Linked DNA regions of Homo sapiens. The protein of the gene in region 1 purifies or fractionates together with the protein of each later gene. This does not show direct contact. Each region holds a gene or a part of one and is shown in the gene's direction. Other genes may lie near its edges. The genes, in order: ABCB1, POPDC2, UBA7, PLEKHM2 and FBXO15.

Evidence for each region.
Region 2: the proteins of ABCB1 (region 1) and POPDC2 purify together in Homo sapiens (co-immunoprecipitation; one large-scale study listed by IntAct). This does not show direct contact.
Region 3: the proteins of ABCB1 (region 1) and UBA7 purify together in Homo sapiens (affinity purification with western blotting, with the first as the bait; one study listed by BioGRID). This does not show direct contact.
Region 4: the proteins of ABCB1 (region 1) and PLEKHM2 fractionate together in Homo sapiens (co-fractionation; one large-scale study listed by BioGRID). This does not show direct contact.
Region 5: the proteins of ABCB1 (region 1) and FBXO15 purify together in Homo sapiens (affinity purification with western blotting; one study listed by BioGRID). This does not show direct contact.

Annotation. Positions count from the first base shown.
Region 1 is NC_000007.14:87,551,425-87,557,458, reverse strand, and holds part of ABCB1 (ATP-dependent translocase ABCB1), read left to right. Parts: intron 1-3,526; coding exon 3,527-3,698; intron 3,699-6,034. UniProt on the Homo sapiens protein: Translocates drugs and phospholipids across the membrane. Catalyzes the flop of phospholipids from the cytoplasmic to the exoplasmic leaflet of the apical membrane.
Region 2 is NC_000003.12:119,642,000-119,648,033, reverse strand, and holds the end of POPDC2 (popeye domain-containing protein 2), read left to right. Parts: intron 1-4,584; coding exon of another isoform or gene 4,585-4,658; exon of another isoform or gene 4,659-4,667; intron 4,668-5,472; coding exon of another isoform or gene 5,473-5,558; 3' UTR 5,559-5,978; downstream 5,979-6,034. UniProt on the Homo sapiens protein: Important for the maintenance of cardiac function.
Region 3 is NC_000003.12:49,805,298-49,810,953, reverse strand, and holds part of UBA7 (ubiquitin-like modifier-activating enzyme 7), read left to right. Parts: intron 1-121; coding exon 122-202; intron 203-281; coding exon 282-437; intron 438-525; coding exon 526-691; intron 692-770; coding exon 771-976; intron 977-1,074; coding exon 1,075-1,139; intron 1,140-1,228; coding exon 1,229-1,412; intron 1,413-1,489; coding exon 1,490-1,564; intron 1,565-1,794; coding exon 1,795-1,978; intron 1,979-2,485; coding exon 2,486-2,568; intron 2,569-2,841; coding exon 2,842-2,934; intron 2,935-3,026; coding exon 3,027-3,218; intron 3,219-4,708; exon of another isoform or gene 4,709-4,788; coding exon 4,789-4,881; intron 4,882-4,956; coding exon 4,957-5,057; intron 5,058-5,516; coding exon 5,517-5,646; 3' UTR 5,647-5,656. UniProt on the Homo sapiens protein: E1-activating enzyme that catalyzes the covalent conjugation of the ubiquitin-like protein product of ISG15 to additional interferon stimulated proteins (ISGs) as well as other cellular proteins such as P53 in a process termed protein ISGylation.
Region 4 is NC_000001.11:15,720,689-15,726,722, forward strand, and holds part of PLEKHM2 (pleckstrin homology domain-containing family M member 2), read left to right. Parts: intron 1-640; coding exon 641-700; intron 701-4,628; coding exon 4,629-4,857; intron 4,858-6,034. UniProt on the Homo sapiens protein: Plays a role in lysosomes movement and localization at the cell periphery acting as an effector of ARL8B.
Region 5 is NC_000018.10:74,077,307-74,083,340, reverse strand, and holds part of FBXO15 (F-box only protein 15), read left to right. Parts: intron 1-1,289; coding exon 1,290-1,414; intron 1,415-6,034. UniProt on the Homo sapiens protein: Substrate-recognition component of the SCF (SKP1-CUL1-F-box protein)-type E3 ubiquitin ligase complex.

The DNA of each region.
Region 1 (6,034 bases):
AGAATTGACGTAAGACTACAAACTGATGGCCTAATGTCCTTCCCAAGTTGGCCATTTCTTTAAAGTTTATTTATTTGACAAATTTATTCAGCACCTACAACATGCCAGGCACTGTGCTAGGTTCTAGGTTTTCCTTTTCTTTTCTTTTTTATTTTATAAAGTTCTAAACAAAGCTAGGGCTCTAGGTTTTCAGCTGTGAATCAGAAACAGAGGTTATTTTGTGATCTTCAGTCAAAATAGTAAAATGGATAAAAATGGAAGGAATGGAGAAAGGGAGGAAGAAATATAAGGAATCGTCAAAGAAAAAAATAAAAATATTGATTTAAAAATGTGATCTGAAAGAATCAAAGAGTGTGAGGATGATGAATGGTCAAGTTAACTTTAAATACGGTGGTTGGGGCAGGCCTCTTTGAGGAGGTTTCATCTCAGCTGAGACCTGAGGGATGAGAAAAAGCAAGCCATGGTGGGAACAGAGATGGGATGGGTTTGAAGAAGAGTCTTCCAAGTTTCCTGGGGTGGCCAAGAATTTAGTATGTTCTAGGAAACGTCATAAGGCTTGCATGACTGAAGCTCAGTTGAATGAGGGGAGATTGGGGTGGGCAGGGGCCAGAATGTGGGGATGATGGGCCATGATGAAGAGTTAGGATTGTATTCTAAGGGCACAGGGGAGTGGTTGAGGGTGTTAAAAAGAGGAATGACTATCCACGTTATGTTTTCAGATTGTTTGTCTGTAATGGGTCTCATGAATGGATGCGAGAAGTCAAAGGGTGGAAGCAGGGAGACCAGTGGGGAGGCCGGCAGAATGGTCCAGGCCAGAGCATCTCCCTGATCTGGAGCAGAGGCAGGAGAGGGGTGACAGGTACCTAGATTTGGGATATAACTTGAAAGTAGAATTGATGACTATTCTTAGACCAGACATAATCAGTTTTCTTTCCTGTTCTTCTCCTTCCCTTCTCTGCTTCTACATAAAGTAATTGAGGTCTTAATCTGGCTTTCTCTTCAAATTAGCAGTGCAGGAGGGAAGCTGGCTCTCTTTGAATGGAAATTTAACCAGAAGTTAAAATAAATTCCATTCAATCGTATAGAATAGTTTTGTTCCTTTTCACTTAAAAATATTTTTCTCTCTTTTATGTGCCTTGAAAATATATTTATCTATTAATATTTATTTCTGTTGGCTTAACCAAAATTGTTCCTTATTCTTAAAGTAGTTACTTGCATTATTGATAAATATTTTCACAATATTTAAGAAGAGTCATATTTCCTACATACCAATGGTTTTGTTATATAACTTTAGTCTCTTTTAGTCATTCCTACTTTCATGACCATTTCTGTACTAAAGCCTTTGATGAATGGATGATTTTAATATCTAGTTTTATGTATGGCATTTGTATGGAAAAACAACAAAGAGCTTATGGAAAAGGAGTATTGTTTATATCTCATTTCCCTTTGCCCCCTTCTTTCCTTTATTTCTCCTTTCTGATGTCTAAATGATTTTCTTCCTTGTGCTTCTGTGCAAATGTTTCCTCTGGCTGCATAGGACAACATCAGACTGGTTTCTACGTTAGTCTTGGTAAGCGAGAACTGAAATAAAGGAGATAACAGAGTATAGTACATATGTATTAAATGTCCTTAAATATATTCTTATGTAAGTTATGCCCAGTGGTAGCTTTTACCTCAGATCAACTCATAAAGTGAGAGATATGTATGTGTCTGTGTGTTGTGTGTGTGTGCATATGTGTATATAAATAATTGAAACGTTTCTCAAAAATAATTTTTCTGTTCAGATGATAACTGGCAAGTTGAGGATTTACATTTTGGGGGGTAGAAACTAATGATGTGTTGCTATGTTGTCACTATGAAGTTCTGTTTAAATTTCATCTTTAGTGAACACGGTAGTGATGTAAATTTCACTTGGCATGCTTTTGTAACTCTGTAATGTACCTAGTTAAAGTAGTCATGAAAGCAAGAAACAATGCATGTTCATATCTGGACAGTGCTTGAGCTCTGCTGTACATGCTAATGGAACAAGTTCTCCAAAGGAAATTAATATAATGCTATATAATATTTATATAGTTGTGAATTTATGGATCAAAGACCTTAAAGTATGACTTTTATATGGAAGTAAGTTCATGAATTTCAACAATTATTAGCTCCTCCTCTATCCAAGGCAATGCTCTAGGTTCTGCAGGGAGTTGCGATTAAGAAAATACAGACAGATTTAAGGCAATCTGTCCTGTTTCTCTAATCCTTTTACCTTGGTTCTACATTTGCAAAATTCCTTATTTTTCTTTAACTCTGGGCTCCATTAGCTTATCTCCATAGCTATCCTCTTAAACAGAGTAGTCTTCTCTGTTCCTTTCAAATGAAGGTCGAGTTATAGACATCATCTCCTTTAACTTTACCGTCAAAAATTGACCACCCTCTGAGGGTTTAAAAAATATTTGAATTATCAGTTGGGAATAACCTGTAAGTCATTAGAACTGCAGAAATAAAATCTGTCAGTGACTCCAACATTGTTTTTCGATTTTTTTTCATTTGCTCATTTTTGCCCCTTTTGTACAATTTCCTATATTTGCTCTAAGAAGTATTAATGGGTCCTCACCAGGTTTGGTTAATGTAGGGTAGGCCTTTGTGCTATGAATGGGTTCAGGGCTATAGATATGCTAATAATTTAATTTTTCTCAGCCCTTGAGTTAGTCAGAAGCCGTGGATGGCCCAAGCCACCAGGTCAGATCCTGTTAGTTCAGCAGCTGGCAGCTATGGCATGACAAGTGTTGGGAGCATTAATAGAGGGAAGGACACATAGTCAATATGTAGAAAGGAGAAGGAAGAGAGGGAATGCTGATGAATAATGATGTGCTTTTATAAACCTGTAAGCCAAATAATTTTTGTAGGTCAGTGATTTTTAAAATAAATGTCTACGGAAGTAAGATAAATTGTACAGCTTATTTAAATGTAAAAAGTATTACATGGCAATTCAGAACTCTCAAAATGCTCTCACACATGTAACCTCTCAGTTGGTCATTCCGACAGTCCTAGAGGAAGGCAGGACAGAGAGCAAACTGTCTCCAAACTTCCTTAATGTTCAGAGATTTAAATGACTGTCCCTTTTTTTTTTTTTTAGTACTTTCTAACATTATCTCTCCATTTTATTAATTAAAGAGGCATGCAGATTTTGAAGGAAAGACACAGGTTTTTTCCATGGCTTTTACTTTGTCTTGTGTATGAAACAATGTAAGTTTTAGAAGTTTGCTAAATATTGCTTCACTTATTTGCTATTGCTAAAGCCAGAGAAGGAAATTTTAGAAGACTCCCCCACAAATAAGTTAATCTCTATAAATGTCAGTTTCTTCTTCTGCAAAAAGGGAGTAAAACAGTACTACTATATAGGGTCAATGTATGAGCAGCAGGACAAAATGCATGTATATCACAGGACTGAACACATCCTAGCCACTCTGTAACTATCATGCTATATCGACATGTTTTCATAAAATGTATATGTGATCATTTTTGTTCTTTTTCTCAGGTACAACAAAAATTTAGAAGAAGCTAAAAGAATTGGGATAAAGAAAGCTATTACAGCCAATATTTCTATAGGTGCTGCTTTCCTGCTGATCTATGCATCTTATGCTCTGGCCTTCTGGTATGGGACCACCTTGGTCCTCTCAGGGGAATATTCTATTGGACAAGTACTCACTGTAAGTGGTTTACATTGAGAAATGAACCATTATTATAAAATGCCAATGAAATCCAGTAATGTTGGCTTGACTTTAGAAGAATATATTTTGAACAACTGTTGAATACTACAGACATATGCACTACTAGGTTAAAAAGTGGAAGGCCAGGCACGGTGGCTCACACCTGTAATCCCAGCACTTTGGGAGGCCGAGGCAGGCAGATCACGAGGTCAGGAGATCGAGACCATCCTGGCTAACATGGTGAAACCCCGTCTCTACAAAAAATACAAAAAATTAGCCGGGCGTGGTGGCGGGCGCCTGTAGTCCCAGCTACTCAGGAGGCTGAGGCAAGAGAATGGCGTTAACCCGGGAGGCGGAGCTTGCAGTGACCTGAGATTGCGCCACTGCACCGCAGCCTGGGTGACACAGCAAGACTGTCTCAAAAAAAAAAAAAAAAAAAAAAAGTGGAAAAAAATTAGATGCATCCGACAACCAGTTTTTTCTTTTATTTGCTTGTTTGTTTTTGCAGATATCTTGCACAATTTATCCTGTAGCCTAAATAATATTAACGTTAGCAATCTCAATAGCATGAACTTTTATTTGTTGAGATTATTTGTGCCAAACTTGTTGCTAAACACTTCACTTTTATTTTCTGATTTACTATTCACAAAAATGGCAAAATACACATTTTGACTTCTTTTCAAATTATTTCGAATGGCAGCTAATCCACCTCACAAATTATGGAAGTATAAATTGTTCCTCTTCCTAAAAGATTGTTTGGAAGTTTTCTGCATTATAGACCTTTGTGCAAGCACAGAAGTCTTGCCATTTAATGTTATCCTCTTTTATTTTAAAGACAATGAAATAATTTGCAAACCAAACTCAATTCATATCTGGATCTAATAAAATACACTGTTAGAAGAGTCACTTAGTTCCTTTTTCGTAGGCCAAGCAGAAATAGATTGAGGCAATGAGAGATGATATTTTGTAGAATCCCTTAAAACAATTCCCTTTTTCAGGAGCCAGATTTGTAATATGGATTCAATAATCACTTCTTTTTCTTTTTTTTTCAAATTTGCCTTATCCAACATTGCTCAGTGGGGAATGGCTTTTCCCATGAAGTTTTTTTTTTTTAGTATAGTGATGCTGTGGGTGATCCTTGGTTGTCATAACAGATGTTTTCTGTTTAACTGTGATTGAGATAAGCAGTTTAAATCCAGTGTTCACTGGGCATGAATATACTTCACACACTGGAGGCATCCAAAATAGGGAGTGTGGGGTTTGATATCGGACCAACTTGATTCAAATGGCAGCTTTGTCACTTATTAGCTGTATGATTTAGGGCAGCCAGCTAAACTTTTCAAGCCTCTGCTACCTCTTCTGCCAAATGATATGACAGGAATGAACCCTAACTTTCAGCGTGTTTTGAGGACTAACTGAGATAATGAATATAGAATCACTTAGCAAAGTTCCTTCTGTGTAAATTATTGAGCAATATAATTCCATGTGATTTAGAAAAAATGAATAATGACATTAATTCTCATCAACCCCAAAGAGAAACACAGTTAAGTCTTTACCAATAAGAAACTGATTTGCACAAAACAAAAAAACAAAAGGCCTAAAGAGAACACGGCCTTGTGGCAAAAAAGACAACCTGATAAAGGATCAGTGTCTTAGGTGTGTGTGCTTTATAATTAACAAAAAATGTTCATATACACTGTTTTATCATGATACAACATCTCTATGATTGCTGGGTAGGGAGAACAGATAGAATCTTGCCTGTTTTTGCCAATGAAGAAATTGAAGCCAAAGATTCTAAGAGAATGGCCTAACAACATATAACTAGTTATTACTAATTTAGGATTCAGAACTGGGTCTTCTGACTCCTCTGCTAGCATTTATTTCCACTTTACCTTACTGATGATCTAAATAAAAAAAAAACTAGACATTGAAGAAATATAAAAATATCCTATTATAATATTCTAGCCCTGTGAAATTTAAATCATTGTTTATTGAGCAAGTAAGACTAATTCTGCATTCTAAATTGAAAAGTATTTATATTTCCAAAATATTTTTAGTATGGGCAACATAGTGAGATCTCATCTCTATAATTTTTTTTTTTAATTAGCCAGATATGGTGGCACTTGTCTGTAGTCCCAGCTACTTCGGAGACTGAGGTGAGAGGGTTGTCTGAACCCAGAGGTTGAAGTTGCAGTGAGCCAAGATTGCACCACTGCAGTCCAGGCTGGGCAACAAAGCAAGACCTTGTCTTAAAATTTTTTTAAAAAAATTTTATGCTATTTTTAATTGACAAATCATAATTGCATTACACTTACGGAATACAATGTGATGTTTAT
Region 2 (6,034 bases), on another chromosome or scaffold:
GAACATTTCCTCTTAGAGGACTCACAGAAAGTGGCATTAACCCAACTTTGAAGATAGCAACTCACTCCGGGTGCATGCAAGGCATGAAGGGATTTTAAAAACTCATTCGTTATTAACTTGATTGCATTTTAGAAAGTGGGCTGGTTGATACGTTGAGCAGGAAGGTAGATTGCTGTTTTTTTGCAAGTTTATTCTAATAGCTGAGGCCACAGCTGGGGCTTAAGGGGCTTTTATTTGTGGCATGCATTTTAAAAGAAAAAGAATGTGGCAGGGTTCTAATTCTGATTGCTTGTCTTTCCTGATACAGAGCCCGTCCTGGAAAGCAGTTGTTATTTAGCCTAGACTGGGCAGGCATCTCTGTTAAAACTGCATATTTTAAAGAGGATTGTGATTATGAGCTAATAGCTCGGGGAGGAAAATGTCCTCATCTTGCTTTCCTCTCACCCAGTGGAGAATGTGTTTGTTGATCACACAGACAGAGGACTAGATACTGCTATGATTAAATGTTACTATGATCAGATAGGTATATGGCAGCCTGGCTTTCCCCAGTCACCCACACCTGTGGGAGGTAGGATGTGCATAAATCCTGGAGGGCCTAACAGTGCGTGCAGGATTTCCCTCACAGAATTTCCCTCCCAGAGAGTCTACAAGAAAGGCTGTGCCCAGTGGTTCTGGGAAATTGCTCTCATGTTTCCCTGGCTGCCCTCATAATACTGTGATGTTTTTCTCTGTAACTCCACCCAACCATGATGTAGGCCTGAATTTCCTGAGGAAAATCCCATTGTTCCCAATTTGGAAGGCGCCTCCCATGGTTCTTCAGAAAGCACCAATAAATTACCTGAGAAACTAGCCCAGTGAGGAAGGCCTCCAGAGTACATGAAATGAATGAGTGAATGTTTGTCTATTTTGAAAAACAGGTTATATAAATGATGAAAGAGGCCATAGAGATGACTGATGAAAGGTTAGAGATTTAGTTTTGTAGATATGGAATTTACAATCTCCTGTGTTACCAGCATCCTTAGAACCATAGTTCAGCTCATTCTGAGGTAATTCCAAGGATCAATCTAACACCCCAGATCACTTTGTTGAGTTCCCCGAAGTGTGCATTGACAACTCTGATCACTCCTTTCCCTCTGTGCAGCTGTTCGCCTTCCTACTCGTTCATCCTGCATCCACGCATGCTCCTTATGTCCTATGGATCCCTCTTGGTCCAACTTGCCCATCCACCTATACACTCTCTCTTCGACTCACAGCAGCTCTCTGTTTTCTCATGTTGTTCTTCCTGGTTTTCTTCTCTTTTCTTGGTTCTATTTTTCTCTTCTTTCTTCTCCAATTTCTTCTCAGTCCTTGATTGCCTCAGTTTGATGTTCTGTTCTTTTTTCCTTTTCTTTCTTGAGACAGGGTCTCACTCTGTCACTCAGGATGGAGTGCAGTGGCATGATGTCGGCTCACTGCAATCTCTACCTCCAAAAGCTCAAGCGATCCTCCCATCCCAGCCTCCCAAGTAACAGGGATTACAGGCACATGTCGCTGTGCCTGGATAATGTTTAATTTTTAAATTTTTTTGTAGAGACAAACTCTCCCCATGTTGCCCAGGTTGTTCTCGAACTCCTGGGCTCAAATAATCCTCCTGCCTTGGTCTCCCGAAGTGTTAGGATTACAGGCATGAGCCACCATGCCTGGCCAGTTTGCTGCTCTTAAGTGTCCATTTTCTATGTCTTCTCAGTTCATTTCTCCCTCTTCACTTGTCTCTTGTTTTCTTCCATTTTATTGTTCATATATTTATCTCTCCTATTACCTCCTTTTTTCTTTTTCCCACCTTTTTTGCCTTGCTGTATCTATTCTTCCTCCTAAACACCCTGTACCCCCATCTTATTAGTTTTTAATCCTAACTCTTCCAAAGATCAGTACTTTTCCCTCTGCCTATAAAGAAAACCATTCAAGTGAAGGTGTAAAATCCCCAGCTTTAGGAATGTTTTCCAAACATCAGGAGGCAGGCAGCATGGTAAATGAGAAAGAGGCCAGGACTGGGAGTCCAAAGTCCTGGCTTCTATGTCTGGCTTTGCTACTAATCAAATATGTGACTTTTTGCAAACCATACCTCACTAAACCTTACTTTCTTCATTTGAGCGTGTTGGACCAGCTGTCCCCAGGAACCCCCTTGGATTGATCTGAGAAGGCAAGGATAAGTTTTTCAAAGGAAGAAAAGAGGAGTAGTCAGTCCGCAGTACAGTAGACACAAGCCCCAGGACATCTGAGTGTCTTTCAGCAAGAACTCTCTGTGATATTTCACTACAATTTCTCTGGCACCTTGGGACTCTCCTCAGCCCTTGTGGTGGTGGGTCTTGTTTAACTAGCAGTTCCCTCCATTCTATGCCTGTGAAGAATCTATCACCTACCATGTGATTACAGTGCAGATTTTTTTTTCCTTTTCCTTTTCTTTTTCTTTCTTTTTTTTTTTTTTTTTGTTTGAGACGGAGTCTCGCTTTGTCACCCAGGCTGCAGCGCAGTGGCGCGATCTCGGCTCACTGCAAGCTCCGCCTCCCGGGTTCACCGCCATTCTCCTGCCTCAGCCTCCCGAGTAGCTGGGACTATAGGCGCCCGCCACCGTGCCTGGCTAATTTTTTCTATTTTTAGTAGAGACAGGGTTTCACCGTGTTAGCCAGGATGGTCTCCATCTCCTGACGTGGTGATCCGCCCGCCTCGGGCTCCCAAAGTGCTGGGATTACGGGCGTGAGCCACTGCGCCCGGCCTACAGTGCGGATATTTTATGAGAGAGGAGATCACAACTCAGTCCCCAAGCCCTCAACCCTTAATACATACTATCGTATGAAATGCCTCTTTCCAAATTCAGCCTTTTCTAAAACTCAAGATGAGAAAACTGCTGATGAGGCTCACTTTCTAAAATACCGGAATTTGCAATATAGGGAGAATAGTTTTTCATGTTTCTTTGTTTAAGCAATAGAGAGAAAGGAAACTTATGTCGTTTACTTTTCAGGCCATAGAGGTTTTCAGAACAACTTGAAAACATGATCAAATTAGCCAAACTTCTGATAGTTTTCAATGTAGTCTGTGATCATGGGATAATTTAGCCTCAGTTCTTTTTCTGAAATTGTGTTTTGAATGTTTGATTTGACTTATTTACCATCAAACTTGCTATAAGGTTATTACTCTAATGAATAAGCATATTCCCTTAATTGGGAGCAATTTACTATTATTTCTTTCATAAAGTAGGGCACCATTCACCATCTATTTCCTGGCTCTTTAGTTATCAAAATGTTAAGCTCATTGCTATTCATCCCGGCACAGCACTTATATGAGAGGCATGAAGCTGGCTGAATTCTGCATCATTAGGAATGACACAGCCTCATCACATTGACACCAGTGCTTGTCTCTCACACCAATCCAAATTAAGACCAACTGAAAATAGTCAGAGTTTCCTCTGGAGCTCCTTTTTGAAGAGACATATGTTTTTTAGTCTGGTGGTACCCAAAATTGAACAAAAAATGGGTGCTGCTTCTCTTAATAGGCAAAACTATGCTGCAGGATAATGTATTCATGCAGGGTCTTCCAGCCAGACCCCAAATCATCCCTCCCTTCACTAGAATTTTTCTGTTTAATTCGATGGCCACTCTCCACAGGGATCCATTCTGTGTCTTATTACAGGAGATGCTCAATGAATGAGGGACTTATCTTCTAGAAATGCAGCTCCGAGGTAGTCTGTTGAGTGAAATAATGAATCCATTATCACAAAATAAATTGAAAGCTGTCTGACATTTGGACAATTTTTATTTTGTTTCACATTGTTCTGAAAACTATACTGTTTCTTTTCTCCCTATTATTTAAATAAGCAAATGATGAACAGATTACAAAATTGAGGACACTCGAGGTAAGGGAAGGAGCCCCTCGACAGGAGGATCAGGACATAGTACCAAGGGCAAGAGAAACGATTCAATAAACACTATTTACTATATATTTTAGGCATGGTTCTAGGTAATCACATGATAAGTAGTTGAAAGAACTGAAAATGTTTTATCTGCAAGAAAAGGGCAAGTGTAATATCTTCAAATTTTAGAAAGAATGTAAATTAGAATTTGACTTAATTTGGTGTAGTTCTTGTGGGCAGAAATTGAATTGAATAGGCTGAAAGTTATAAGAAGGATTTTAGCTCAGTATTGATACTGGATTGCTCATGGGTGGTGAGAGTTACTCATCACTGGAAGAGTTCAAGCAGGGGCCATAAGAAATCTCAGGGATTTTATAAGGTGATTCATGCTCTGGGAAAAGGATGCCTTGGATTATTGTGTCAGGGTAACTTCTAACTCTAGGATTCTGTGTTTCTAAGATCTGGACTCTAGTCTTGCCACTCACCTGCCATCAAGAACATGTTCCTCATCTGCAGGACAGGACCAAGATGGCTCTGTCTACCTTACCGGGTTGCTGTGAGGCGTGATTGTGATAAAATACATAAAGGCAGTTTTTAAGCTCTGAAGCACTAGTTAAATGTGTAGCGTATTTTAAGATTCTGTTGTATGTACAATTGTTTAGCAGTCTCTCTCTCTTTCTTTCTCTTTCTTTTATCAGAGATAGATGATTTTCCCTCTTATTTCCACCAGTTTGGCTTTTCAGGGAAGGTGGCAGCTGGCAGAATCCCCTGACAACAAAAGGTACAGCAAAAAGTGGAGGCCTAAAGAAAACATGTGCTAGCTCTTTAGCCCCTGAATAGCTAAGTCACATGTCAGCCTGCTCTCCTTCATCTGTTTGGGAGGAGGCAGATTAGAGTCACACTGTCATCATGCTCTTCCCCTCAGAAGCAGCTGTAAGGTTTTTGGTAGCTGTCAGTGCTAGCAAACAGTGCTTTTCTCACAGAACTACTGGAAAGAGTCCTGGCTCGGAAAACTTGCTCTTGAAAGTGGCACGGCCAGAGCAGGGGTCTCTAGAGGGTCGTGCCACCTCTACCTGCCACAGGTTCCATTGTCGGTCAGGTAAGTTAGAGGCAGCAGTTCCCCACCTGCCCTCTGGATAACAGCAGCCTGGGGCTGCTCCTGAGTCATGTTTCCACTTCTGTCTTACAGGCCTCATTTTCCTACCCATCTTTCTGTAAAAATGAAAGTCAGGAGTCTTATGAAACTTACCATTATTCAATACAGGCTTTTGGTTTTTTTCTTTAAATTAGATAGGGTTAGGTAAGAAGTAGAGTTCTATAGAACGTTCATAGGAAGCAACAAAAGTTGATCTCTTGGTCTCTACAATAGGAGAGGATTGGGCTAGATACCTTCAAAGCTGACTTGCCCTAATATTCTAGTATGAAATGATTCGAAGGTACACCTGCCCCTATCATGTCAGGCAGTGAGTACAGTTAAAACATTGGGAATTGGTAAAGGAAAGAAAAAAACTGAAAAGAACCCTTTGAAGTTAGACAAACTGTCCAGAGACATAGTGCTAAAATCCTCCCTCTTTTTCTTTCCACAGCTTCTAGAATTCCTCTCCAGAGCTACTCTCAAGTTATATCCAGGGGACAGGCCCCTTTGGCTCCAACCCACACGCCTGAACTTTAAGGATCATTGGACTATCTTCTCTGTGGCCAGCGCAGCTCTCTTCTGTGTTCACAGAATGGCCACTGATAGGCATGCCTCTTTTCCCACCCACTGGAAGGCTCACAGGCAAGGTGAGAGAGGACACAGAAGGTGCCAACACTGTCGCTACAGTAAGGACCTGAAGTGACTTTGAGAAATTCACCCTCACAAACCTTCCTTCAGGAGCAGGCATTGGTAGTGCAGAGGCACAGATTCCGTCCTTTACCAGCTGCAGAATCTTGGGCAAGTTACATAGCCTCTGTGAGCCTCATCGGTAAACAGTGGGGGTTATGAAACCCACCTCACAGGGTTGTTGTGAGGATCCAATGAGTTGATTTAGGTAAGCACCTAGCACATGCCGTGGCACCAAGTAAGCACTCAATAAATCACTCAACTCCTTTCCCTATGTTGTTTCTTTGCATTGTCTGAAAGGATCAATGGAGTCAAAGATCCAGCTT
Region 3 (5,656 bases), on another chromosome or scaffold:
GTCCAAAATCAGGACTAGGGGAGAAGCATGAGGAATGCCCTCCAGGTCCTGATTCAGAAAACTCAGTATAAGAAGGAGATGCAGGCCAGTAGCCATCACTGACCCCGTCTCTGTCCCCTAGAGAGGCAGCCGCTATGATGGGCAAATTGCAGTGTTTGGGGCTGGTTTTCAGGAGAAACTGAGACGCCAGCACTACCTCCTGGTGAGCTGTGGGGTGAGACTGGGGGTGCCTTTGGGAGAGCCAGCCCAGCCCCTCTGGCTAAGGCTGTTCCTGCCAACAGGTGGGCGCTGGTGCCATTGGTTGTGAGCTGCTCAAAGTCTTTGCCCTAGTGGGACTGGGGGCCGGGAACAGCGGGGGCTTGACTGTTGTTGACATGGACCACATAGAGCGCTCCAATCTCAGCCGTCAGTTCCTCTTCAGGTCCCAGGACGTTGGTGTGAGTGCTGACCCCTCTCCACACTCCTGCATCCCAGACCGTCCTCCCATACAGCTTCCCACCCAACATCTTCCTGCCTTCTTCCCAGAGACCCAAGGCAGAGGTGGCTGCAGCAGCTGCCCGGGGCCTGAACCCAGACTTACAGGTGATCCCGCTCACCTACCCACTGGATCCCACCACAGAGCACATCTATGGGGATAACTTTTTCTCCCGTGTGGATGGTGTGGCTGCTGCCCTGGACAGTTTCCAGGCCCGTGAGTGCTTGACTTCGGAGGTCAGTCCCTTGCCCACAGCTGTGCCAGTCCCACTTCTGACCCACTGCTCCCTTGCCAGGGCGCTATGTGGCTGCTCGTTGCACCCACTATCTGAAGCCACTGCTGGAGGCAGGCACATCGGGCACCTGGGGCAGTGCTACAGTATTCATGCCACATGTGACTGAGGCCTACAGAGCCCCTGCCTCAGCTGCAGCTTCTGAGGATGCCCCCTACCCTGTCTGTACCGTGCGGTACTTCCCTAGCACAGCCGAGCACACCCTGCAGGTAGGAAGCACCCTGGAGACTCCCACCCCACCCAGCTCAGCCCTCAGCTGCAGACCTGTTCTCCACCTGATACCTCATTCTTCCTCCCTCCTCCACAGTGGGCCCGGCATGAGTTTGAAGAACTCTTCCGACTGTCTGCAGAGACCATCAACCACCACCAACAGTAAGGCCACCAACAGAGGCAGATGGGAGTCCAGGGCTCCAAGCATGAGTCTGCAGGACTCAGTCTCACACTTCCTCCTCTCTCTGCAGGGCACACACTTCCCTGGCAGACATGGATGAGCCACAGACACTCACCTTACTGAAGCCAGTGCTTGGGGTCCTGAGAGTGCGTCCACAGAACTGGCAAGACTGTGTGGCGTGGGCTCTTGGCCACTGGAAACTCTGCTTTCATTATGGCATCAAACAGCTGCTGAGGCACTTCCCACCTAATAAAGTGTGTGGCTAGGGGTTGGGACGCTGGGGGCTCAGGGGGACCAGACTGAGCCCAGCAGCTTCTACTTACCTACCTAGGTGCTTGAGGATGGAACTCCCTTCTGGTCAGGTCCCAAACAGTGTCCCCAGCCCTTGGAGTTTGACACCAACCAAGTGAGTGGGATTCTGTAGGGAGCTCCAAGATAGAGATGTGGCCCCTCAGAGCAGAGGTAGGCATTTCTGCATTCTGCAGAGATGCACAGATGCCCAGAGAGAGCCATGCTTGTGCATATATGGGTGTCTACATGTGAGGCAAAGGCAGGCACTCAAACAGATCCACAAATGGACAGTGACCCCCACCCCATGCACCCATGCCTCTGTTCCTGCTCTTGGTCTGGCTGCAGGACACACACCTCCTCTACGTACTGGCAGCTGCCAACCTGTATGCCCAGATGCATGGGCTGCCTGGCTCACAGGACTGGACTGCACTCAGGGAGCTGCTGAAGCTGCTGCCACAGCCTGACCCCCAACAGATGGCCCCCATCTTTGCTAGTAATCTAGAGCTGGCTTCGGCTTCTGCTGAGTTTGGTGAGGCTCCTGGCCCTGGCCCCTCATGCTGTCTTTCAAAGGCCTGAACCTGTCCTGTCCTCAGCCTGTGCTGCAGAAGGAAGATAGGGCCTAGGGGATCTACAGCCAATTTGCTACCTCTCAGGCCTCCTAACCTCACTCCTCCATAGTTTCAGGCTTATCCTCTGGTCCCTCAGTAGGTCTTCTCCCTGCTGCCTACCCCACATCCCAGTTCTTGTGGCAGATTCTTGGCAAAATAAATAAGTAAATAAATAAAGTCCATTGGTTCCTGGGGAGTGTCTAGCTATGGCCTGCAGGTGAGGACAGGGTCACAGAGGTCATGAGCACACATGGGTGAAGACTGGGGCTTCTAGAGGGGAGATTGTAGCATTAATTAAGGGGGCTTCTTGATTTGATCAGGGAATAGTAAGTGACAGGCTTGGCAAAGACCAAGAATAGGCACAGGGCTCCAAGAAGAGTGCAGGAGACAGGGGCTAAGGACTGCCTCAACATCCCCTCCCCTGACAGGCCCTGAGCAGCAGAAGGAACTGAACAAAGCCCTGGAAGTCTGGAGTGTGGGCCCTCCCCTGAAGCCTCTGATGTTTGAGAAGGTGGGTGCCCAAGTGGCAGTGAGGAGTGGGGCTGGGGAGTTTGTGGAGAAAGGTCAGGAGCTAATAAGGTAGTTTTGGAGCCCCTTGGCCTGAATTCTCCCAGCAAGACCCTGGAAGCAGCTCACATTCCCTGAACCTCAGCCTGTCTGATCAAGAGGAGATGTGGGGCAACCCCCCGACAGAACTGTGTGGAGACTTGTGCAGTGACACGCAGTGGGCCACGGTGAGGGGCACAGCTGCAGTGTTAACACTACTTTGACTTGGGCCTTACAGGATGATGACAGCAACTTCCATGTGGACTTTGTGGTAGCGGCAGCTAGCCTGAGATGTCAGAACTACGGGATTCCACCGGTCAACCGTGCCCAGGTAACCCCACCCCTTGAGGCTTGGGCCTGGAGGTGGAGGGCAAACCCTGGCCCTACGCCTTGGGCCCAGACCAAATCTCTTGTCCTTGGCAGAGCAAGCGAATTGTGGGCCAGATTATCCCAGCCATTGCCACCACTACAGCAGCTGTGGCAGGCCTGTTGGGCCTGGAGCTGTATAAGGTGGTGAGTGGGCCACGGCCTCGTAGTGCCTTTCGCCACAGCTACCTACATCTGGCTGAAAACTACCTCATCCGCTATATGCCTTTTGCCCCAGCCATCCAGACGGTGAGCCCATGATACCCCACCCTTAGCCCTACTAGGCCTGGGTTTCCCCTGCACCTGCCCATACAGGCCCCAATCTAGCTGCCGGCTCTCACTGAAACTCAGACTGTGCAGAAGTCCTGAAGACTCCCTCCAGCCCTCTTCCTGCTATGAAGCCAGGCTGGGACCTGTCAGACACAGGAAGCAGCCGTCAGCCATCCCCACCCCCAATCCTCCAAAGCCCAGGATCTGGGGGAGCTGCAGCTTTAACTCATTAGTGGAGCCAGACATCCCCCACAGTCCCCTCCTTCCTTGGAGTACCCCTGAGGGGTAGGTAGTGGGGAGGGGACCAGGGCATCAGCCCCAGAAAGAGTCTAGCTTCCCCCTGCATGGTACGGGGGCCCTGGCCTACCTCCTACAAGCTGAGTTAAAAGGTAATAGGCTTGCCACTAGAGGTGTGGGGTCTGCAGCCCTGAGTGTATTTGTGTCACAGTTGTGAGTGCAACTGGGGTCTGGGCATCCCCGGAGTGTGGGTATGGAAGGAGCAAGTTTGCACATCTGTGCATCAGATGGGAGTGCAGGGCTCCCATCTTCCTGTGTCCTCAATGTGGGCATGCATGGAGATGCATGTGGGCACACATGTGTGTGTTCCTGGGCTTGTGGGCATTTGTGTTCCTGTGACTGCAGCGCTGTGAATGCCTCCAGCCTTGTGCCCAGGCTCTGCAGTTGGCATTTCCTTGGGGCAAGGATGAGGGTAGAAGGAATGCCCTCATGAGGGGAGAGGGCAGAGGTCATGGGCCAGCACTGGGTTTCTGCTGAGCAGCCTGGGGTCCCTCTGGACTAGCACACAGAGCCCCTTTGTGAGGCACCCTGCCTCTAACCAGCATACAGGCTGCCTTTGTCCACAGAGTGAAGCAGGTGAAGGAGAAGCCCCCATCTCACCTCTAGCCTAGTCTCAGCTTGACCCCAGTGTGTTTTCTCAGGGGCTGATAAGCACCCCCTGTCCTGGTCTCTAGATACCTGCCAGCCATCCTTCTGTCCTTAGCTCTAGGTCCCAGAACCCCAAGACTCTTGGAAGGAAGGAAGGGACAGGAGGAGGAAGCCTCTATGCATTGTATCCCTGCTGGGGTCTCTGGGACAGTGGGGCCCTGGTGGTCACTGTGCCCTTTGCCCCTGTGTCCCAATGAGTAGCCCAAGGCACTGGCAGTACATACAAGATTGGGGGACAGGATGTGCCCCCCAGCTCCCAGCCTTGTCTTTGAGGAACAAGCAGCTTTATCAGAGGCTGCAGGGGCCCTGCTCTGGGTTTCCTCAGGAAGCACCACCCCCTCATCCCCCACTCTCACAACTGGCCCATGTGATGGATCGTCTGTTTCCCTGTGCGGGCCCCATAGCCCCATTTCCTGTGCTGGCCCCGGCCTGGACGGGGAGGGGGCTGAGACTCTGGGCCCAGATCCCACCTCCCCCCCACCCCCCACCCCCTGGCTCCTGTTTCCTGCTAGTCCAGCTCTTCCCCTAGGAAAGGCTGCTGGTAACTGGGATGGGGGTTGGGGGGAGGTAAGAAGTCTCTGACTCCTCCTCTACCTCATCCCAGTTCCATCACCTGAAGTGGACCTCTTGGGACCGTCTGAAGGTACCAGCTGGGCAGCCTGAGAGGACCCTGGAGTCGCTGCTGGCTCATCTTCAGGTGTGCCCTGTTGCTACCCCAACCCCCAGGCTCAGCCCAGCCCGGCCCAGCTGGTGTCTGACCTTTCTCCTCTAGGAGCAGCACGGGTTGAGGGTGAGGATCCTGCTGCACGGCTCAGCCCTGCTCTATGCGGCCGGATGGTCACCTGAAAAGCAGGCCCAGCACCTGCCCCTCAGGTGAGCCCACTTGGGGCTTTAGACAGGCCCCACCAGTCCCTGGAGGCTGGGGCTAGGGACCACACTGCCTTTTGTCTTCCCAGCCCCATTCTGGGCCCCTCACACCTTCCCAAGCATTCTTTCCCCAAATGGAGCCAGCAAACAGGCTGGAGGTGGGGTGAGGGCCGAGAGCCTGAGGAGGAGTCTTCAGGAGCTGCCTATTTGGCCAGCCCCATGGGCTCCCCACATGCTGCACAGCCCCCCTTTCACAGCCCACTCCCAAGGGACCCATAGCTTCCTGCCTCCTGCTTGCCTCATCAGCTGCTCCTAAAATAGTTTCAGATGTTTCCTGTCTTGAGCAGCTCCTGCTCCTGGCTTGGGCTCCTGACGGCCTGCCAGCACCCTCTCTAGTCCATGCCAGGCTGCCTTCTGCTTGCCATGGCTCACCTCTCCAATCTCCCCTAAACCCACCCCTACCAGGGTGACAGAACTGGTTCAGCAGCTGACAGGCCAGGCACCTGCTCCTGGGCAGCGGGTGTTGGTGCTAGAGCTGAGCTGTGAGGGTGACGACGAGGACACTGCCTTCCCACCTCTGCACTATGAGCTGTGACAAGGCAGCC
Region 4 (6,034 bases), on another chromosome or scaffold:
GAATTGCCTCAGCATTGAGACCTTGACCTTCCCCTTTCTTTATTTCTGCTGTACCACGGGTTATATGTCCCAGGAAGGGAGGTCCCTCTCAAACTTGCTGTTAGCAAGACCTGCATTGCTGACCGTGCAAGCTGAAGAAGGCGGCACAGTCTCCTTAGGTTGGGCCCATGGGCCACCTTAGAGGAGTTGGAGGGGTGGGCCTTGCCGGAAGAGCCAGGGCAAGGATGGATCCATGGATGGAGGTGTCCCCTCAGCAATTTGGAGATTGTGCAACTGCAGCTGCCAGGGCAGTGTCTCCTTGCCCTGCTAGGGTATGGAGGGAAGGCACGTAAGAGGTAGAAAACAAAGCTAGGCACAGGCAGCCAGGCTTCTCTCTGCCAGAACCAGCTTCTGGATGTGGAAAGGGGTCACCCTGACAGGTCTTTCCAGCTGGTTGGAGGCTCCTGGGCCAGCGCCTGAGCTGAGAGGCAGTCAGGGCCCTAGTAAGTTTCCCCAAGGTTGTTGGATACAATGTAGAAAGTTGAAGTTTTCCTCTCCTATTTTCTCCCCATGTCTCCCACCCCATTTCCCCTCCCCTCCCTCCAGTCATCCTTCCACTGCCTGTGTTTCTAATCTTCAGTTTTGTCCCTCGTTTTTGTAGATTATGATTTTGGAGATGTGTTTCCAGCAGTGCCGTCTGTACCCAGCACAGACTGGGAAGGTGGGCCAGAGTCCGCTGTTACCCTCTTTTCCTGTTTTGCAATGTTTCCATGCCAAGCTTGCTGCATGTATCAAATCAGCTCCTTATTATTTATAATAATATCCATAATCATAATAAAGCCAAGTTTGGTGTTCTAATAGATGGAATTCTGCAGTGGGAAAACTCAACCTCTAGCCATAGGCAAATCCCTTCTCCCAGTGCAGGGCTCCTGCCTTTGCTCAGTGGCCTTTCGGAGTCACTAAGTGGCTGCATTTCGGGGGATACAGGGTCACCCTTCCTGATTCCAGTGCCAGCTGATGCTCTCGGGGTGTGTAGGGCCTGACCCAGTGAACCAAGACTTGTTCTGGAAAACCATGCCTTTAAACATGCGGGTTGTAAGCTCCTGCGGGTCAGATGAGCATCGAAGAGAAAGAGCTTGATTCTTTCAGTCTGTTCCTAATGGCTTCCTCTTGGGTGTTTTGGAGTGGTTGAGGTCCAAGTCAGGAAACTGCCCAGGTACAGCTGAAACTTCCTACAGACAGAATCTCTTTGAAGCTTTAAAGCAGATTAAAAGGAAATCTGCCAGCCCTCCCACCCTGTCTGCTGGGCAGTAGCAGTGCCTGGGCATTTTTCTGCCTGAAATTCCACTTCATAAATTCACAAAGCTATTCCCAGGTTGCCACGATTACTCAAAGCAAAGGCTATGTTGCCAATAAGGTGAATGTTTCCCCCTTAAATCTGAGGCCATAGCAGATCCCTGTTATTTTACTTTATGTTATTTTATTTTACTTTTTGAGACGGAGTCTCGCTCTGTTGCTCAGGCTGGAGTGCAGTGGTGTGATCTTGGCTTACTGTAACCTCCACCTCCCGGGTTCAAGCAATTCTCCTGCCTCAGCCTCCCAAGTAGCTGGGATTACAGGTGTGTGCCACCACGCCCGGCTAATTTTTGTATTTTTAGTAGAGACAGGGTTTCACCATGTTGGCCAGGCTGGTCTCAAACTCCTGACCTCAGGTGATCCACCCCACCTCATCCTCTCAAAGTGTGGGATTACAGGCATGAACCACTGCACCTGGTCCAAATCCCTGTTATTAAAGAGCCTCCTACCCTCTGGGCCACTTCCAGCCTGGAACAGGGGAGGTGAGGGAACCTGGCCTCTGAACAGGGGAGGTGAGAACTGCCACACCCTGAGGATGAGGGGCACGTGGCTCTCCCCGCATTATTAGAGACGTGATTGCTGAGTAATGGGTGACAGGTGATCCGTTCCCAGATAATGTGAGTATGAAATACCTTAACTCTGTGAGAAATAAGATGTGGCATTGGGAAAAATAAACTATGACACTTGGCCAAGAGTAGCATTGAAGGGTCCCCTGTTTGAGTTAAATTAGCTTGGATTCCAGAATTCCATCATAACATCATGTACCCTCTTAGCCCCTCTTCTTGCAGCACACATGCTGGATATTGTTTTTTTTTCCCTCCGATTCTAACAACTAACCCCCCTCCTGACACGCCTGCTGCAGTCACTTGACAAGCAGGGCCTGACCTTCCTCTACAGCCTTTCAGAGCTCCCTGCGGCCTGAGAACTAACAGCCCAGTTGCACTGCTTGCCTCAGGGCAGGGTGAGATTTCTGGAGTTCCTGGAGCAGGATTCCTGAGCTCACTCTGGCAGCTCACCCGGGGAGGCTCTGTCTTCTCCTTGGACCTGGAGGAAGGCAGGACTTGGGGCAGCTCCAAACTCTGAGCCTGGGGTGGCCTTCCCCTGGTCTTTGGCTTATTTACAGAGCTGGTGGGCATGCGGGCCTTGACACCCACCACATCTCATGATCTGCCCACTCACCTCTCAGGGCTCCTCTTGGGTGCAACTGCGTGTGCTGAGGAGAATCACAGGAGCCGGAGCAAGAACACATGGGCTTGGCAGGAGCCTGCTTTGGGACCGAGAGACGCGGTTTTCTGTATCTTAGAACTTAGGCTCTGAGATCCCCGGAAATCTGGAAAAAGTCCCCGATGTTGCTGGTCTTTTCTGGCAGAGCTACTCATTGCCTTTAGCCTCCTCTTTTGTCCTTATATTAAAAGACAGCAGACTTAAAAAAAAAAAAAAAGGGCCAGGCTCACACCTGTAATCCCAGCACTTTGAGAGGCTGAGGCTGGAGGATCGCCTGAGCCCAGGAGTTTGAGACCAACCTGGGCAACACAGGGGGACCCCGTCTCTACTAAAAATATAAAAATTAGCCAGGCTTGGTGGTGCACGCCTATAGTCCCAGCTACTCTGTGGGCTGAGGCAGGGCAGGAGGATCACTTGAACCCAGGAGGTCGAGGCTACAGTGAGCTGTGATTGCGCCACTGCGCTCCAGTCCGAGCGACACAGCGAGACCCTGTCTCAAAAAAAAAAAAAAAAAAAAAAAAAGGACGGTGTGCTGCATCAGCAGACAGCTGCCCTGTGGCTTCCAAGGGCACTAAGTTGACAGCTGGTTGGGCCCCCAGTGGGGCTGTGGGGTGCATGTTTGCCTCTTTTCTTCCGGGCAGACAGCGGCCAGCAAGATGAGCATTGGCCGGCAAATAGAGCACGACCAGCCATGGCCCTTGCCATTGACCCTCACCCAGGCAGTTTCACCAGCTGGGCCTCAGCTCTCTGCTTGGGTGGCTCCCATCTGCCACTGGCCGTATGGGCTGTGTGCTTCACCTGCCCGTGCTCCCTCTCCTGCCCTGTTCCAGTAACCAGGGGCAGATGGCTGGGTGGGGCGGGATGTCCAAGCCAGCTCCCCTCTCGGGGGCCGTGTCAGGGTATGAGTCAGAAAGGACCAGTCAGTGAGCTGACACTTGAATGAAATGGAGTTCTCGGCCGGGCACGGTGGCTCACGCCTGTAATCCCAGCATTTTGGGAGGCCGAGGCGGGCAGATCACGAGGTCAGGAGATCGAGACCATCCTGGCCAACATGGTGAAACCCCAGCTCTACTAAAAATACAAAAATTAGCTGGGCATGGTGGCGCATGCCTGTAATCCTAGCTACTCGGGAGGCTAAGGCAGGAGAATCACTTGAACCCGGGAGTTGGAGGTTGTAGTGAGCCGGGCTCGCGCCACTGCGCTTCAGCCTGGCGACAGAGAGAGACTCCGTCTCAAAAAAAAAAAAAAAGAAAGAAATGGAGTTCTCAGCACCACCCTTGCAGGGGCACCTGGTCCTGCCCCCGAGGAGTGTGTAGGGTCAGGGGTGCTGGGGAGAAGCAGCCTGGGGGGCGGCCTCTCGGACCCCTGTCTTTGCCCCTTCGCACCTTGCTCTCATTGCCCTGCTCTGTCATCTTGTCTCTACTCTGTGCTCTGGGCATTTCCCTCTGCCCCATGGTTCCCACCCCTTGGGCTCCCATCCTGTCTCCTAGCCTCTGCCCCCACTCTGCACCCCTCACTTTCTCTGCTGTCTTCCTCCATTCTTCTCCCTTTGTGTTCCTTTTACCTCTGCAAGGGACCCTTCAGAGGACTTTGGGCACCTCTCAGCCCTACAAGTGGGGTATGGGGCTAACGGGGCTGCTGGGTACCCCTGTAGCGTCCTGGCAGGAAGGCTCTGAGGGTAACCTAAGAGGCGTGCAGCCTGGCTCCTCTCTAGGGCTCCCAGCCACCCATGGAGGCCTCGAAGTCACCATTCCTATGGGACTTAAGCCTGGAGCTTGAGCCTGGAGGCTGCTTCACCGCGGGGGCCCTTAACACAAACTCAGCCAAATTGTTGTGAGCTCCGGAGGCCCCAGGGGTGGTGGAGATGGTGTTCCTTCCAAGTTGCTCCTAAAGTACAAAACCCCATGTCCTGTTAGGTTGTGGCTTCTACTCGAAATGGGGCCACCCCTGTCAGGTTTCCCTGGGAGGAACTGGCCAGCCTGCCTCCCTCCTGGGCTAACGCATGCTCTGGGGGTCGGGGACCCCGGGGGGTGCCTGACAGGGTGTCTCCTGCTTCCTTGTCCTCCCAGATGGAGACCTCACAGACACGGTCAGTGGTCCCCGCTCCACAGCCTCCGACCTGACCAGCAGCAAGGCCTCCACCAGGAGCCCCACCCAGCGCCAGAACCCCTTCAACGAGGAGCCGGCAGAGACTGTGTCCTCCTCTGACACCACCCCCGTGCACACCACCTCTCAGGAGAAGGAGGAGGCCCAGGCCCTGGACCCGCCGGATGCCTGCACGGAGCTCGAGGTCATCAGGTCAGCAGGGAGGGGCCCAGAAAGGAGCTGAGGTCCTGGGGTCCAACCTGTCCACTCCCAGCATCAGCTGTTCATCCAGGGCAGACCGGGACACCCCCTGAGGGCAGTTGCATGCCTTCCTGGAAACCCTTCCCACCTCTAGGAGGTTCTTTGAGCAAGAGGAAGTGGAGGCCTGTCCTAGTCAGCTCGGCTGCTGGAACAAAGCACCGCAGACAGGCGGCTTCCACAACAGACATTCTTTCTCACAGCTCTGGAGCCTACAGTCCGAGGTCAGGGTGCCGGTGTGGCCAGCCTCTGATGAGGGATTCACAGATGTCCCTCTTCTCGCTGTGTTGTGGCGGGGAGTGGAGAGAGAGCTCTCTAGGGTCCCTTTTATGAGGGTGCTGATCCCATTCCTGAGGATCCCACCCTCAGGACCTCATCACCCCCCACCCCCTGATACCATCACATTGGGAGTTAGGATTTCAACACAGGAATCTGGAGGGGACACACACATTCACTCCATTGTAGGGCTCAAGCCCTTGGAAGCAGGTGGCACAGGCAGCGACCGTGGCTGGTGTCTGGGGCCATGTCCAGGCTGCCAGGGCGTTTGCTGGGTCTGCCTAAGATCAGAAAGCACCTTCAGGCTGTACTTCTTCCCAAGGGAGTTCTTGGAAGTTAAGATACAATTTCTGAGATTCATTGAAAGAAAAGTATCTTTGTCATATGGGCAGGACATGGAAAGGAAGGACATGGTGGGTGGCCAGCAGGGACTGTCAACCAGAGCCTCCCCGGCTCCCTGACCTCCCCGACCCCCTCTTAAAACTTCACACTGACTAAGAGGAGAAGCCCTGTGTGCGTGTCAGACTGCCCAGGCTTGCTGGCCTGAGGCGGGGGATTGCTCCCCAGTGACTGGAGCCAGGAGGCCACCCCATGGGCTGGTTCCAGTCCACAGCAGCATCATGCTCAGACCTGGGGTCCCTTAGCTAAGCCCGCTCCAGCCAACCTGGAACCAGAGTGGGACCCGGAGCGTGAGCCCAGAAAGCGCTGAGTGCTTTCTGGGTGATTCCTCCATGATGATGCCTGAGGGAAGTGAGGTCAGCTCGGGATCCACATCCGAAGGGGGGCTGAGTGGAGGGGGCATTGCCTGACCAGCCATGGCCTGTTTTTCTTTCCTAGAGTGCAGCTAGCTCAGCTG
Region 5 (6,034 bases), on another chromosome or scaffold:
TGAGGTGACGAGGTGATGAGGTGACAGCAGAGCTGTTGCCTGGGAAGGGTCCGTGTCATTTGGCATTTCTTCCTATGCCTGGGGAGAGTGGAAGGGAAGCTACACAGCTCTTGCTAATTACTCAGCATTAGAGAGGAAAATGTGGGCTGCCTCTGTCCTTGGAACAGAAGTAAGACGTGGAGAAACCAGCAGTGTGGCATCTGGGCAAGGAGCTCCCGTTTGCGGGGCTGGAAACCCTGCCTCTGCGTCCTCTTTCACTTAAAGCATATTACTGGGTCACAAAAGAGGCCCCAGGCAAAGTGTGGGCTTTAACCTTCTGGTGACACTGAAGTTGGAGAACACTGTATAACATTTCTAGAGCAGAGCTTTGGCTCCCAAGGCAGCTTGGCTTTGGTTTTATTTTGTCTCATGAAATAACCAGGCCAGGGCTGGAGAACATTTGCTCTTTTCCATGATTTTTCTGTTTGCTTTGCCCTGTGACTTGCATCTTCCCTTTGTTCAGACTTCCATCTCTGGAGAATTCTCGGGTATGAGTTGTGTTGCTGTCGGTTGGTTTGTGTGAGAAGCAACTGATGGTCGCTTCTCAGGGTGCGTTCAGACAGAACCAGGAAGCTTGTGTCTGTGTGAGACCGAGTGGTGCTGCGGCTCTCCCTGCCACAAGAGGCCTGTGGCAGCAGGGCTAGTGTGCTGTGTGGGTGCGAGGGCTCCTCCGTGTGGCCAGGCTGCCAGTAGCTGGCTTGGAGCTGGCAGCAGAGGGCCAGGGTTTGGCCTCCAGCTAGGTGGGCATGTGCACGGACTCTCACTCAGTTACAAGCATGTGCAGAGGTGTTGGTTTATTTCATGTGAGTTTCTTCCACTCCTCTTCATGTTCGCCTGCTCTCCAGCCCCTTGTTTCTTTGCCATTTCTGCACCTGCTTTCTTCAGCTGTGTAATTCTAGATATCGGTTTCCAACACTGTTGGCTTACCCACATCAGAAGAACCCTTTCCTCCTTCAGCGACCACCTTTCCATCAGTGACAGGTGGCTATCCAGGCTCGCCTCAGCCAGCTTCCCCTGACTCACCTTTGACATCACCTTTCTGGGCACTTGTTAATGTTTCTGCCTCTGGGACACAGATGCATCACTCTGGCCTCAAGCCAGAGGCTGGGATTGCTGTGCCCATGTTGCCCTCATCGCTGAGGCCAGGGCTTACCAGGGTGAGGTATCCTTATAAAGTCGCCGACTGAACGTGCTTGGTTTGTCATCTTGCACTGGAAGACAGTGATTGAAACAATCTTATATCTTTTCAGGAAATATTGAAAATGGACATGTGAAGCTCATTGTTATACATTTAAAAAATAACAGAGAACACCTACCTCTTATTGGAAAAGTTGGCCTCTCGTGGAAAACTGATATTTTTGATGGCTGTATAAAGGTAAAAACAGAACCGTTTTCTTTTCTTCAAGTAACTTGATTTCTATATAATAAAAAGTCTGTTTATATATATAAATTATATTGTCATATATGTATGATGTTTCTTTTATAGTTCTGGATTTATTGTTCTGGTTTCTGAAGGTTGGTGCACATTCTGTTAGCCATTGACAGCCAGTGGATTCACTCATGAGATGCTTATTGAGTACCTTTCATTTGTCACTGAGTATGGTGGAGTTGGAGGGGCAGGTAGTCTGCAGCAGCATTTCAGAACACTGTTGATCACAGTCCCCTACTCTCTCAAAGCCCCTCTGTTTTGTGGAAAGAGAGTGGAACTGAAGGTTGGACCACGCAGGCAGCATCTACTCAAAACATCTTGATCATCCATGTACCAATTTAAAACTTATTGCAGTTATAAATTCTTAGTCCAGGATATAGGGATTTCCTTGAACTGTTAAATAAAGATTAGCCACATGGGTGGGAGAGTTGACTTAGTGGTTGGGAAGTAGCAGGGAAGGAGGGAGGAGGAGGAAGAGGAGAAAGATGTTCTCACAGTTTTGCTTTCTTCTGTCCTTGTGCCCATGGCTGCTCCTGGTTCTTGTCACTCTCCAACTTTATTTTATGGGATGAACAAGATTTTCATTGTCCCAGGGACCAGTGGGATCAATCTCCTGTGACTGCGGGGGCCTCCTGTAACATGGCTTTATACGGCGCTATGCATGCGCACCTTGTTAGAACTATTAATGATGACGACTGGGACCAAGAGTGGTGTTATCATGAAGCACTGTCCCTTGAGCCACTTGATATTTGATGCAATGAGATATTTTACAAATCCTATTTATTCATAGCAAATGTTTAAGTTTTGGTAAAAATGATGTTTATCACACACCATGTTGTTTCATGCCTTTAAGAGCACAGACCTACCTTCTTTCTTTTTCTTCAGATTTCAATAAAGCCTATAATAAAAGTAGGTACTAAGATAAAATATTCACGTCAAAATAGACCTTGAGGATCAAGAAAGGCAGAATGTGAATGTGACTGTCTTTTAAAGGGTCAGCATAATTTTTAAAAATAATTTGTTCTGTGTTTTCTGGTAGTCCAGAGAAAGATGAGAGCAGTCATTTAGTTCTCATTGGGAGAAAAAAGGGAAATGTAGTAATTATACAAAGAAAGCTTTATCCCAGTTCTGATCATTAAAAACAAAATTTCCAATGGGACTTTATGTAGGGCAGACTAAGCTACATAATGGACCCACCCTGAATAGCATCTTAGCAGCAGATGCACTCACAGATTTCTCATAGAAGTTCTCAGAGAAGCTGAAGATACGGCTTCAAAATTGGACCTTTACATGAGCTCCAAGCAGTGATTCTGTAGGTTGCTAAACCAATGTGACTGAGGTGCACAGGTGTTTAGAAAAACAGCTTGATCTGAAAGCAGGATTTTGAGTTTTTAAAGTAGAGAATGGATTGCATGTCCCTGGACAGTTTTCCCCATAAATTCCTTCTCTCAGATGGGCTTTGGGAAAAGATAGCAGATAGCTCAAAAGCTTGTACCTTCTCCCTTGGGCCTGGAGGGTAGATGTGGTTTATTTTCTGTTTGCCTTTTATGCTCTTGGATTCAGTATTAAGACTAAGCCGTCCTCAGAATTCCCAAAAGAATAAAAAGTCAGATCAGTGATGTCATATGTCTTGTATTTGCTGTGCAGCTCAGGTATTTCTCTCCAGGAATCTGATCACCCTAAGAATAGTGAAATGATAACATTTATTTTAAGAAATTGCTTGGAAGGAGTTAAAAACTTTTTTTTTAAAGCATGGACATAAGCTTAGAAAGTTTCTTAGGTACATATGACTTTTAAAAAAATGTAAAATAAAAACCCGGCTCCTTCTGGAAATTGTAGACACAACCTCTGGTGAGGAGCTTCTACTAAATAGTTTACGATGCCTGTCAGAGCATAGGCTACTGAGAAAGTACGTCACCCAAATACGATGCTGGTGGAAGGACAAAGAAGTGAGAAAATATTAATGATAATGACGGAGGATGCTGCCTAGTTGTGTCGTGTTGGTTGAAGTGATGTGCAGTCGTGAAAGGACATCTGATGTCCTTGGGACCTGCTGTTCCCATGAGAATCTCCGTCTTCCTCCAACCTCAGAGTTGAGTGACCTCCAACACTTACTGGTGTGGAGGTAATTCAGGTGGAAAGTATCTTTAGTTTGAGTTCCTAGAGCAAAAACTCAACAGATCATAAGTTTATGTGGTAAATTATTAAACTTTAAAATTCTTTAAAAATCACATTCTAAGTAGGTCAGTTTTTTATTCTTTTTTTAAAAAACTCAAAAGATACTGATAATTATTACAATAATATTATGAATGAGCTGTATTTTAATTGTGGTAAAATAAACATAAAATTTACCACCTTCACCACTTGACTTCTATATTTCAGTGGCTTACATACCTTCTCATTGTTGTATAACCATCACTACTGTCTAATCTCCAGAACTTTTCATTTAAAGATGCTTTCAGTGGCCACGTGTTAGTACTGAATCCATGCAGGACGCTTGCTCTGTAAGTGGTTACCATGCTATTTTACAAAGTCATGTTGAAACAGCTAGGCTACCCTCTCAAGGTAACCTTGCTGCAGTCTTCAGCATAAGTCAAGTAATCAAAGTGAAATACTCTCCTGCTCTGTCTCCTCCCAGCGCCTATCAGAATTTCAGATGGATGGATTTTCTTTTGGTGAGGCTTTTCCCGTATGTTTCTTTTATGTTTTTCTTTCACTCCTTGGCATTTTTGATGTTATTTTAATGTTACTTCTAAATCTATATGGAGATTGGCATCAATTTTTATTTAGACTAGATATTTCAGTGTAGTTCTGTGGTTCTGCTTTATGTAAGAACAGCTGAGTTCAGTAGAGCCTGCTGTGGGTACATCGTGGGTCAGCATGTTGTGGGTGGCCGTGGCCCATGAGAAAGGCATCCTGGCCACTTCACTTGACAAGCACTGCAGCTGCATGGGTGATTAAGGCTGCTGGTGCTGATACAACCGAAAATCGCAGGAAGAACAGAACAGTCCCACACGTGCGAGTGCTGCACTCTCCCCAGACACTGAGTTTTGAGCCTGGCGTAGTTCACTGGTCCATGGGAGCGCAGGTGAGGAGAGACTTCCTCCTGCAAGGAGGGTGAGGTCTGCCGACTGCTCAGATGTGTGCCTCCTGGACGTTCAGGGTGAGAGGGACTGATTTAGGAGAGGGATGATTGAAAACAAGTTCTGTGAGGAGAAAGAGGAAAGGGGCCAGTGGGAGGAAGGCTCATGAGAGGTTCTGACATGCATCCCCCCCCAGAAGGTTGGGAGTGATTTATTCTGGAGAAGGAACCCAGTGGAGAAAGAGATGCTTCGGACAGGATGGGAAATAAGGAGCGAGCTTCTAGAGGTGAGGGGCAGCTGGCCCGGGGAGGGGTGCGAGACCCACTGTGCCGCTGCGGCTGGTGCTGAGGCGGGCCTCTTCCTAGCTGGCTGTCCTGCCTGGGGTGGGCTAGCACCCGGGGACAGGAGGGACAGTGACTGGGGGGCATTGGAAAGGCTGCTGGGGCAGGTCGGGGGGGGGCCTTGAAACCCTCAGGAAAGAATTTGGATTTTGGTGTATCTGTGGATGTTGTTAAAGAGTTTGATGTGCCTATCGTGTGCTAGGCCATGTTTTAGGTTAGGAGGGAATTGGAGAATGCTGGACTTTGAGAACTAGGAGGGCTTCAGAGGAGAGTCAGCTCCCAGCTCTTGATCTGGCAGCAGAGGAGGTGGGAGAGCAGAAAGACTGAGACACCCACCGACGGCTTAGGGCTGTGAGCAGCGTCCTCACCAAGGAGCCCTTGTGCCCCACCGGCCGCTCCTTCCTGACTTCTGCCAGGGTTTCTCCTCCTCAACCTTCTCGCAGGTGATGGGACCCAGGGCTCCACCTCCTTCCTCCCATAGGATCTAACCACCATCTCTATGCTGGTGGGTTTGGTGAGGTTGTAAGTAACACAGTCAAGTGACTGCTAGCCCAGTGGCTAAGGTCGTGCAGGGTGGTGGGGTGTGGAAGATGGATGCACCATGCAGTCCCACCTGCTGTGTTATCTCAGAGGTGCTTAGACCTCAGAGCCTTCTCTCTAAAACGGCCACAGTGGTAATGCCCATTCCAGGAGGGCTCCGGCTGCCTGCCAAAGACAGAGCCATCTGCTGGCCCTCAGTATTGGCTTCAACTCCCCCATTCTCAGCCTCAGTGAGGCTGCAGTGTAGGGTGTTTTTTCTTATTCCCCACCTGCTCCCCACTCTGGTGTCCTCCTCGCAGCCCAGGCTCTGTGTGTGGTGGTCCCTGTCATGCAGGAAGCAGTGGGTGCTGTGGAACAGGCTGTGTGGGGCTGGTCGCTGCTGTTCCAGGACCACTGCAGCCGATTGCCTGGGAAAGGCATCAGGGAGCAAGGTCAGGTGTCTGAGGGGTTCCTGGGTGGTCTCACTGTGTAGCTCATCTGATGTGAGGGGCCTTAGGCTCTGGCGTGCACTCTCCCATCAGGGATTAGTGTGTTTCATGCTGGCTGCTTCTTCACCCATCTCTTCTTTCCTGGTGTTTGCTGCCCCTGATGCATTAGGGCTC